Linked DNA regions of Homo sapiens: region 1 is linked to region 2. The links come from fine-mapping of genetic effects on gene expression. A gene starts in region 2. The other region holds a variant in brackets. All regions are shown on one strand. Distances are from middle to middle.

Region 1 (5,370 bases), 360 kb before region 2:
TGGGGTCTGACAGCCCTGGATTTGAATCCCTAAATAGCACCAGCCATTTGTGTGACCCCAGCCAAGTAGGGTATCCTTTCTGGACTTCAGCACTAAAAATAGCTCCCTTGCTTGGATCTTATGAGGTAAGCTTGGAGCCTAGTTTCTGCACTCAGACCTCCATTAGCAGTGGCCTTTTAAATGTATCTTTTCTGTATTCTCTGTTAAGCCCATACGCTCTTTTGTTTATTTATTCATTTAAAAAAAATAAAAAAAACCACTTTTTTTTTGAGACAGGGTCTTGCTGTCTCTCCCAGGCTAGAGTGATCATGGTTTACTGCAGCCTCGACCTGGCTGGACTCAAGCGATCCTCTTGCCTCAGTCTCCTGAGTAGCTGTGGCTACAGGTTTGTGCCATCCTGCCCAGCTAATTTTGGTATTTTTTCCAAGAGACAGAGTTTCCCTGTGTTGCCCAGGCTGGTCTTAAACTCCTGGGCTCAAGCAATCCGTCTGCTTCGGCCTCCCAAAGTGCTGGGATTACAGCTGTGAGCCACTGCACGGCCTCCATGCGGTCGTAACACCATGAGGTAGCCACGTTGGGCAGCTTGTGCGTTGTCAGGGAGACACTCTTCCTCAGCCCCTGGGCACCTCTGTTGAAAACTTCCTGGCTGTCTGGCAGGCTGGAAATCAGCTCTATTTGTTTTGCCCTGAAGATATGTTTTATTTATAACTCATTCTGACTCTGTAGAAAATAATTCAATAAAAACTCAATTGGTTTTCCACTAGCCCTGAGCAGGGATGAGGGATAGTATCTTATTTTATAACACATGTGATAATAAAACAGCCCTGGTCACATAGCCCAGAGCGGGTAAGTGCCTGCTGGCTGAAAGGAAAAATGCTGGCTCAGACCATTTCTCCCTTGCTGCTGTATGTGCTGAGAAAACCACTCCTGTCCTCTTTACTTTTCCATTTTAGGATTTTTTTTTTTTTTTTTTTTGAGATGGGCTCTCTCTGTCACCCAGGCTGGAGTGCAGTGGTGTGATCTTGGTTTACTGCAGCCCCCGCCTCCCGGGTTCAAGAGATTCTCCTGCCTCAGACTGCCTAGTAGCTGGGATTACAGGCATGTACCACCACGCTCAACTAATTTTTGTATTTTTAGTGGAGACTGGAGTTTCACCATGTTGCCCAGGATGATCTTGAACTCCTGACCTCAGGTGATCCACCCGCCTTGGCTTCCCGAAGTGCTGAGATTACAGGTGTGAGCCACCACACCCAGCCCTTTTTAGTGTTTGTTGTTGTTGTTGTTTGAGATAGAGTTTTGCAGTTGTTGCCCAGGCTGGAGTGCAATCGCATGATCTCGGCTCACTGAAACCTCTGTCTTCCAGGTTCAAGCGATTCTCCTGCCTCAGCCTGCTGAGTAGCTGGGATTACAGGCGCGCGCCACCACATCTGGCTAATTTTGTATTTTTAGTAGAGACGGGGTTTCACCATGTTGGCCAGGCTGGTCTTGAACTCCTAACCTCAAGTGATCCACCCGCCTCAGTCTCCCAAAGTGTTGGGATTACAGGTGTGAGCCATTTCTCCTGGCCAGGATTTTTTAATTGAAAAAGAAATACATGTACATGTTAAAAGATTCAAACAGAACATTAAACATACATAACGGAGAGCGGCTCTCTGTTTTCAATTTTCCCTGCGGATGCCACTGTTAATTCATGTGCTGGGCATCTTAAGTCTGTAAGCCTCCCCCATCTCCTGCTTTATTTTATTTTATTTTTGAACCCAGAGGGGTTTAAATCCTTAAATGGCTTCTGCCCGCACTTAGCAAGCTTGGCGCCTTGGCACTGAACTAACGACAGCTGTCCTAGCCCCTGTCGCCTCTTTGGAACCTTTTATGTGGATGGATTGTTGGGGCCCTCAAAGTCGGGAGTGCCATGGTGCCAGCTGGGGATCAAGACCGCGCGCCACACAGGGGGAAGCCGGCCCAGGCTGGGGCTCGCACCTCACGTGCCTCCCGGGCCCTGCGATCCTGGAGGCGCTCCCAGGCCGCGCGCGCCACGGTCACCCACCCACGTGGGGGGCACGACCGTGGGAGTCACGGGGGGTACCGTGAGGGTCACAGGGGGTGCCGCAGGGATCCACAGTGGGCTTCCGCGGGGCCTCCACCCCTGAGCTTCACAGAGGAAGTGAAATTTGAGCTGCGCGCCCTGAAGGACTGGTAAGCGGCGGGGACAGAACTGGGCCTCCTTCCAGCTGCGCCGCCCCAGGTGCAGAAGCTTTCCTCCTAGTCTCTGTTCTCTTGCTCCGGTCCCTCCCTCCCTCCTCGCTCCATCTCCCTCCATCTCCCTCCTTCCCTCCTCCTCTTCCTCCCTCCTTTCACCCCTCCTTTTTCCCTCCCTCCTCCCTCCTCCACCCTCTCCCTGTCCCCCGCTTCTCTCTCTCGCTGCCCCTCCCTCCTTCTTTCACCCCTCCTCCTCCTACTCTCCTCCTCCTCCCTCCCCGTCCCCGCTTCTCTCCCTCGCTCCTCCTCCCTCCTTCTTTCACCCCACCTTTTTCTCTCCCTCCTCCCTCCTCCTCCTCCCTCCCCATGTCCCCTCCCTCCCTGTCCCCTCTTCTCTCCCTCGCTCCTCCTTCCTC[T/C]TTTCTCCCTCGCTCCTACCCCCTTGCTTCCCTCGCGTCTCTTGCAAAACCCGGGACGGATCGGGGGCCCAGGCCTGGCCTCCGCGCACGCGCAGGAGCAGCGCCGGCTCGGCCGCCAGTAGGAAGCGCCAGCCCAGAGCCTGGGAAGTGGCCGCAGAGGCTGCTCGGCCCCGCTGCCCGCCAGGTCGTGGGCTCCCGCTCCGGGCCCGGGGCCACCGGCTGTGTAAGTGCAAAGCGGGGGGGCTCCCGGTCAGGCAATTCGGACCGGCTGCGGGGAGGGCTGCGCGGCTGGCCGTGGAGTCGGCGCGTCCCGCGGAGGGGCTCGCCCGGCCCTCACCTGTCCGGGCGGAGCCCGCCACACCTGTCCGGGTCCGCTGCCGGGCCGGGGTTCAGCGTGCACCTGCTCGAGGCGCCCTTGCTCCTGTTGGCGCTCTGCTTACATCTGTCCAAGGCCGTGTCCCACACCCGCTGAAGACTCGGCGGACACCTGTCCGGGACCCGGCCCACACCTGCTGCCCGGGCCGGCTCTGCTCTCCCGAGCTCGCGGCGGGGGTCCCCTTCCCCTCTGTGCCTCCGAGCTGTCTCCGCCTGGCTTCCCCTCCCGGGCCGTCCGCGGCGCTGGAGCCCCCCGCCCCTGGGCCTGGCTAAGCCCACTGGAGCCCGCGGGGTCTGGGACGCGCGGCTGGGGCCTGGGGCCCAGCACAGCCCACGCCCCCGGCGCTTTCCCCGCCCTGAGTTCCCGGACTTCTCCCCTAGCCCTTTCCCTCCTGTCTCCTGGATTCAAAGTGCCTGCGATCTAGCTGGGCGGCATCAGGCGGTGCTCTCTGGGATAAGCGCGCTGTCAACTCCAACTTATCCCAGGGAACCCTGGGGAGAGGAAGTCAGGCTACTGGCCTGTGGTCTTCTCCCTGTCAGCCCACCCCAATCCCCTCCACCCCTGCAGACCTTCCCAACGTGAATGTCTGTTAACCGAAAGTTTTCCCGTGTTAGGATGCGTTGTCTGTCTTCAAATGTTTCTATAGAGAGAGGAATTAAAACGCTGGAAGCAAGGCCCAGTTGAAAGGTATGGGGGAGTGACTTCCCTTCCATCCCTCACGGCCCCAGTTTAAACTGGTGACTGTCCCGTGTTTCTAAGGTAGTCATAGCTACCTATGACATCTTTATTTGTTAACCTGAAACAAAGCACCGGGTGGATGATGTTGGAGGCCCAGGAACATTGCCGTCCTAAAGATCTGGCTAGGTTTTGTTGTGTGTGTTTGTTCGTTTTTTTAATTGTGTGGAGGACTAGTAGTGTAGAGGGAAAAACAGTTGTCCGGAAACATGTAAACAATAAATGTTTCAGAAATCTAGTGTGTCAAAAATAACAGCTTCATTGAGCCTCGATTACCTGCCATAAAATCCACTGCTTTAAAGTGTACAATTCAGTGATTTTTCTTTTTTTTTTTTTTTTGAGACGGAGTCTCGCACTGTCGCCTGGGCTGGAGTGCAATGGCACGATCTTGGCTCACTGCACCCTCCGCCTCCTGGGTTCAAGCGATTCTCCTGCCTCAGCCTCCTGAGTAGCTGGGATTACAGGTGCCTGCCACCATGCCCGGCTACATTTTTTTTGTATTTTTAGTAGAGACGGGGTTTCACTCTGTTGGCCAGGCTGCTCTCGAACTCCTGACCTCGTGATCCACCCGCCTTGGCCTCCCAAAGTACTGGGATTACAGGCGTGAGCCACCATGCCTGGCCAATTCAGTAATTTTTAGTATATTCACACTTGTGTTACCATTGTCATTCCAGAACATTTTCATCACCCCAGAAAGAAACTCCATACCCATTAGCAGTCACTCCTCATTCCCCCCTCCGACAGCCCCTGGCGGCCACCGGTTTACTTTCGATATATATAGATTTGCATATTCAGGGCATTTCCTATTAATGGAATCATACAACATGTGGCCTTTTGTATTTAGCTTCTTTCATTCAGCACAGTGCTCTAAAGTTATTCATGTTGTGGCTTACATCAGCACTTTGTTCCTTTCTGTGGCTGAATAATATTCCATTGTATAGATTTAACATTTTGTGTATCAGGCAGTTGATGGACATTTGTGTTGTTTTCACTCCTTAGCTATTAAGAATAATGCTGTGCCTGGCCAGGCATGGTGGCTCACGCCTGTAATCCCAGCACTTTGGGAGGCCGAGGCGGGCAGATCACGAGGTCAAGAGATCGAGACCATCCCGGCCAACATGGTGAAACCCCCTCTCTACTAAAAATACAAAAATTAGCTGGGCATGGTGGTGGGCGCCTGTAGTCCCAGCTACTTGGGAGGCTGAGGCAGTAGAATCCCTTGAACCTGGGAGGCGGAGTTTGCAGTGAGCCGAGATCGCGCCACTGCTTTCCAGCCTGGCGACAGAGTGAGACTCCATCTCAAAACAACAAACAAACAAAAAACAAGAATAATGTTGTGCCTGTAATCCCAGCACTTTGGGAGGCTGAGGCGGGTGGATCACCTGAGATCATGAGTTCGAGACCAGCCTGGACAACATGGCAAAACCCTATCTCCACGGAAAATACAAAAATTAGCCGAGCATGGTGGCTCACGCCTGTAGTCCCAGCTACCCGGGAGGCCGAGGCATGAGAATCGCTTGAACCTGGGAGGCAGAGGTTGAGGTGAGCTGAAATCCTGCCACTGTACTCCAGCCTGGGTGACAGAGCGAAACTCCATCTCAGAAAAAGAGGAATAATACTGCTATGTACATTCCTGTACATGTTTCT
Region 2 (5,370 bases):
AACCTCTTAGTACCTTCATCTGTAAAAAGAATAGTCGTGTGTATCTCAGAGGGTCATTGTGAAGACCAGCTGAGATAGCGTCATGGCTAAGGAGAGTGCTTTGTAGTCATGAAGGTATCATTAGTAATATGGTATCAACTATTCTTCATTGCTACTTATTAGATTCTAGGCACTATTCTAAGATTTCACATCAGGACTTTTCAACAGCAGCACTATGACATTTTTTCTAGATAATTCTTTGCGGTTGGAGGGGGCTACAGGATATAGGATGTTTAGGAGCATCCCTCACTTCAACCCACTGGAGGCCAGTAGGGTCCCTTCCTGCCCCAATCGCTTGTACCAACCAGGATGTCAACCAGATATTGCCAAAGCTCCCCTGTGGGTGGGGTTGGGGACAGAATTGCCCCTGATGAGAGGCGCTGCCTCACGTGAGCTCTGTCATTTAATCTTCACAATTCTCCGAGGTGGGTCCTATTACTAGTCCTGGTTTACAGATGAGGAAACTGAGGCACAGGGAGGTAAATATTTGCCCCGATAATGCTGCACTAAAAATGCTTCTGAAAAAGGGAAGCTCGTAAACAATTGTCATCGAGGGTCTGGAAGAGAGCGCTGATGTAATTAAGGAGGGTGTCTCAGGCTGAGTATGAGGAAACCCTACTGCTAACCCTCTGTTGTTACCTCCCATCCCTCGGTCCTCTCGTCTGTGCTGTGGGAGTGGGGAGCGGCAGGTCTTTCATGCTCCTTCTGCTAGTGGAATTCCTGCTTTCTAGCATCCCTTCATTTCATCACTGGGTGCTTGTTTGCTCAGGATTATGCCTCATCTTCGTAAGTCAGACATGATCCTGGCGCTTCAGACACTCAGCTTTGCAACTCCCTCAAAATGGGAGCCACAGGCATGTGGGGGGTTGAGCTTTATCCTGCCCAGCCCCTCGCTCAGTGGGGGTGAACAGAGTGAGAGGCAGGACTTGAAAGTATTTGCCCAGAATCATACAGCAAGATAGCATCATGTGCAAGAGGCAGCCATGTGTACTCCGAGTCCACACTGCCATTCTTGTTGGCCTTTGCAGGCCGGCCTCCTGAAAAACTTGTCTCTGCTCACTTCTTCAGTCTCTTCTCCTTCTGTCTTCCCTTCAACCTACTCTAATCAGAAGATAGAGACAGAAGTAAGCAGTGAACTAGGCAGGACCAAACCAAACCAAGAGTTGTGTGTTGACCAGCCAATGAGGAAGTTATGTGTGGGAGAGAACATGGTAAACTATGTCTTCTTCTCCCCCATGTCTATGTCTGTGTGTGTGCGTGCATGCGTGTGTGTGTGTGTGTGTGTGGTGGGGGGAGGCTGGTATTTTATTTATTGGACAAATATTTATTGTCTAGCACTATGTGCCAAATACCAACTTAAGACATCTATAAGAATTTCAATTTCTCTGAGACCCAGGCTAAGATTTTCCATTAAATTCACATGAGTCTATTACATCTCTTTCTTTCATTTCCACCTGGGTAGTCAGGAAAACACATTAGACATATTTTTAAAAATTAAAGTTAACACAGAGTGTTACAAACTTTGAGAGAAGCAATAATTTTGAGTTGCACTAGTAATCACAGCAACAACCCCAAATACCACATTTATTGTCTCTTACAAAGCATCATAAGTTACATTAATCACTGGTTTTAACTACATTCTGTTACAGTTTGGACTCTAGTAACTAGGCAAATACAAACCAACAAAACAGCATATAAAACCACATGGAACAAAAAGCACACTACTCTCCAATATGCATTTTCTGGAGCCAATCTGATATTTAACTGGGATAAGACATTCTAAATAGCAACTGAAATATTGATATACCAGAACATCATGAAATAAATATTTTTCCCAACTCTGAAGACATTCCTTTCCTCATGCAAAATTTACCAAAAAGAAAAAAAAAAAGGAAAAAACAAAAAATAAACAAAAAACCAGGCTGGGCATGGTGGCTCACACCTGTAATCCCAGCTTGGGAGGCCGAGGTGGGTGGATCACCCGAGGTCAGGAGTTTGAGACCAGCCTGGCCAACATGGTGAAACCTTATTTCTACTAAAAATACAAAAATTTGCTGGATGTGGTGGTGCATGCCTGTAATCCCAGCTACTTGGGTGGCTGAGGCAGGAGAATCGCTTGAACCCAGGAGGCGGAGGTTGCACTGAGCCGAGATTGCACCATTGCACTCCAGCCTGGGTGACAAGACCAAAACTACGTCTCAAAAAAAAAAAAAAAAAACAAAAAAAAGAAAACCCTACAAAACCAACCCAAGTTCATAGTAACCAGAATTTTCAAATATTTCTCTGTGATCAGCACCTAAAAATGTATTTTAAAATGCTTATTTTAATGGCCAGGCACAGTGGCTCAGGCCTGTAATTCTAGCTGGGAGGCAGAGGCGGGTGGATCACCTGAGGTCAAGAGTTCAAGACCAGCCTGGCCAACATAGTGAAATCCCATTTCTAGTAAAAATACAAAAATTAGGCATCGTAGTGTGGACCTGTAGTTTCAGCTACTTGGGAGGCTGAGGCAGGAGAATCGCTTGAATCTGGGAGGCAGAGGCTGGAGTTAGCCAAGATGGCACCATTGCACTCCAGCCTGGGTGACAGAGCGAGACTCCGTCTCAAAGAAAAAGATATGCTCATTTTGATTTGGAATAAAGCTGCCTGGCCAAAAGATGGCTTGTGGCTAGAAGAGGAAGGACAAATAAGAAAACATAAATGGTTCAAATAGCACTCTATGTACAAAAACATGAAAAGGTGAAAATTTCTTAATTTCAACTTTTTGTTAGAAATTAGTACGTCACATATAGTCCTCCAGGGAGCGCTCTGAGGCTGTTACTAGTCCTTTAGTTAATAAAGCGAGAAGGCCCTGTAACTTAGCCTATAGGATTTTAGCGCTGACGCCTCCGAACCCACCCAGGCTTTCGCCTCGGAAAGGCACGGAAGAGGCCCCATGTTAATACCCGCAGTCTAGGACACGGAGTCATCCTCAGGGCCCTGTCACCCGTGAGTGAGATTACAGTCACAAACACAGGCTTCACAGCTCGCAGACGCACGGCCACCCTCATCTCCAGCGCCCTTCCCTTCCAGAGCGCGTGAGCCTGAATGCAGAGTCCGCTTCGGATCCGGTGCGAGCACAGCCCTGCCAACAAGGAGGCCCCAATGGTGCCCAGGAAGGGAGGGGCTGAGGGCGGGGCCGAACGTACGACCAGGGGTGTTTACGCTGCAGTCTGCGCCAGAGCCGCAGCGGTACATGGAAGACCTGGGCGGGCAGGCGTCCTTACTACGCGGATCATGTTGCGGCTGAAGTCGCGAACCGAGACGTAGCTGGGTGTCCCGACCCTGCATACAGCAGTAGAAGACCTGGGTGACCGTCAGTACCCTGTGAATTGAGGCACTCCTGAAGCCATGCGCTGAGACCTGGCTGGGTGTCGCTACCCTGCTGACGGCTGCGGAGGACCTTGGTGGGCATCAGTACCCTGCGGATTGTAGGGATGCTGAAGCTGCGCACTGAGACCTAGCTGCGTATCTCCCCTGCGGAAGGCTGCGGAGGACTTGGGTGGGCGTCAATACCCTGAGGATTGTGGCACTCTTTCCGCAGTTCCCTGCTCTAGGCTGCGGAGGACCCGGGTGGGCGTCAATACCCTGAAGATTGCGGCACTCCTTCCGCAGTCCCTTGCTCTTGGCTGCGGAGGACCCGGGTGGGCGTCAATACCCTGAAGATTGCGGCACTCGTTCCGCAGTCCCTTGCTCTAGGCTGCGGAGGACCCGGGTGGGCGTCAATACTCTGCGGATCGCGGGGATGCTGAAGCTGCGCGCTGAGACCTAGCTGGGTATCTCCCCTGCGGAAGGCTGCGGAGGACCTGGGTGAGCGTCAGTACCCTGAGGATTGTGGCACTCCTGCAGCTGCGCAGAGACCTAGCTGGGTGTCCTCCCCTGGAGAAGGCTGCGGAGGACCAGCGTGGGCATCAGTACCCTGCGCGTCACGGGGATGCTGAAGCCGCGCACTGAGACCTAGCTGGGTGTTCCTACCCTGTGGAAGGCTGCAGAGACCCGGGCGGGTGTCAGTACCCTGTGGATTGCGGCACTCCTGCAGCTGTGCAGAGACCTAGCTGGGTGTCTCCCTTGCAGAAGGCTGTGGGGGACCCGGGCGGGGGTCAGTACCCTGTAGACTGCGGCACTCCTGCAGCTGCGCACTGAGACCTAGCTGAGTGTCTTCCCTGCGGACGGCTGCGGAGGATCTGGGCGAACGTCATTACTTTGTGGATCCCGGGATACTGAAGCAGCTGAGACCTAGCTGTGCGTCGTCCCCTGTGGAAGGCTGTGGAGAACCCGGGTGGGCTTCAGTACCCTGAGGATTGCGGCACTCCTGCAGCTGCTCGCTGAGACCTGTCTCCCCTGCGGAAGGCTGCGGAGAACTCTGGAGGGCGTCAGTAGCCTGCGGATTGCGGCACTACTGCAGTTGCGCAGAGACCTCGCTGGGTGTCTCCCTTGCAGAACGCTGCGGAAGATTCAGGAGAGCGTCAGTACCCTGCGGACTGCGGCACTCCTGCAGCTGCGCAGAGACCTAGCTGGGTGTCTCCCCTGCGGAAGGCTGCGCAGGATCACGGAGGGCGTCAGTACCCTGCGGACTGCGGCACTCCTGCAGCTGCGCACTGAGACCTAGCTGAGTGTCTTACCCTGCGGTGGCGACGGAGAACCCCGGTGGGCGTGTTTACCCTGTGAATGGCCTAGCGCTGCTAAAGCCCCGCACTGAGACGTAGCTGGGTGTCCTCCCCTGTGCACGGCTGTGGAGGATCTGGGCGGACGTTGTTACTTTGTGGATCGCGGGAATGCTGTAGCTGCGCACTGAGACCTACCTGGGTGTCCTCCCCTGTGCACGGCTGCGGAGGATCTGGGCGGGCGTCATTACTTTGTGGATCGCGGGATTGCTGCAGCTGCGCACTTACATCTAGCTGGTGTCTTCCCCTGCGGACAGCTGCGGAGGACCTGGGTGGGCGTCATTACTTTGTGCATAGCAGGAATGCCGCAGCTGCGCACTGAGACCTAGCTGGTGTCGTCCTCTGCGGACGGCTGCAGAGGATGAGAGGAGGGAGGAGGCGTCGTTACTTTGTGCATCGCGGGGATGCTGAAGCCATGCACTGAGACCTAACTGGGTGTCCCCACCCAGTGGACGGCTGCGGAGAACCCGGGCGGGCGTCATTATACTGCGGGGGCGGGCGTCATTATACTGTGGAAGGTGGTGCTGCGGGAACTGTACAGAGACCTAGCCGGGTGTTCCTGCCCTGCGGATGGCAGCGGAGAACCCTGGGGGGCGTTTTTAGCCTGCGGATCGCCTGGTGCTGCTGAAGC

Which allele goes with the higher level. Alleles are on the strand shown, and positions count from the first base shown. SD is a standard deviation of normalised expression in the study named.
As copies of T replace C in region 1, the expression in neutrophils of the gene that starts at base 3,264 in region 2 goes up (large effect, 0.77 SD a copy in BLUEPRINT).

What was found. PIP is the estimated chance that this variant, and not a neighbour inherited with it, causes the effect.
Region 1: its variant is fine-mapped to the expression of PEG13 in neutrophils (BLUEPRINT, PIP 0.95).

Annotation. Positions count from the first base shown.
Region 1 is chr8:140,455,104-140,460,473 of GRCh38, reverse strand. TRAPPC9 (trafficking protein particle complex subunit 9) reads left to right here and starts at 2,730. Exons shown (of 23, transcript NM_001160372.4): 1 at 2,730-2,835. RefSeq lists silencers at 1,876-2,185, 2,306-2,545, 2,636-3,025, 3,136-3,185 and an enhancer at 1,958-2,476. The variant T/C (reference allele first, on the strand shown) is at 2,613.
Region 2 is chr8:140,098,429-140,103,798 of GRCh38, reverse strand. It overlaps PEG13 (paternally expressed 13), which reads left to right and starts at 3,264. Exons shown (of 1, transcript NR_144431.1): 1 at 3,264-5,370. All of the region lies in intron 17 of TRAPPC9 (trafficking protein particle complex subunit 9), which reads left to right. RefSeq lists an enhancer at 3,508-4,007.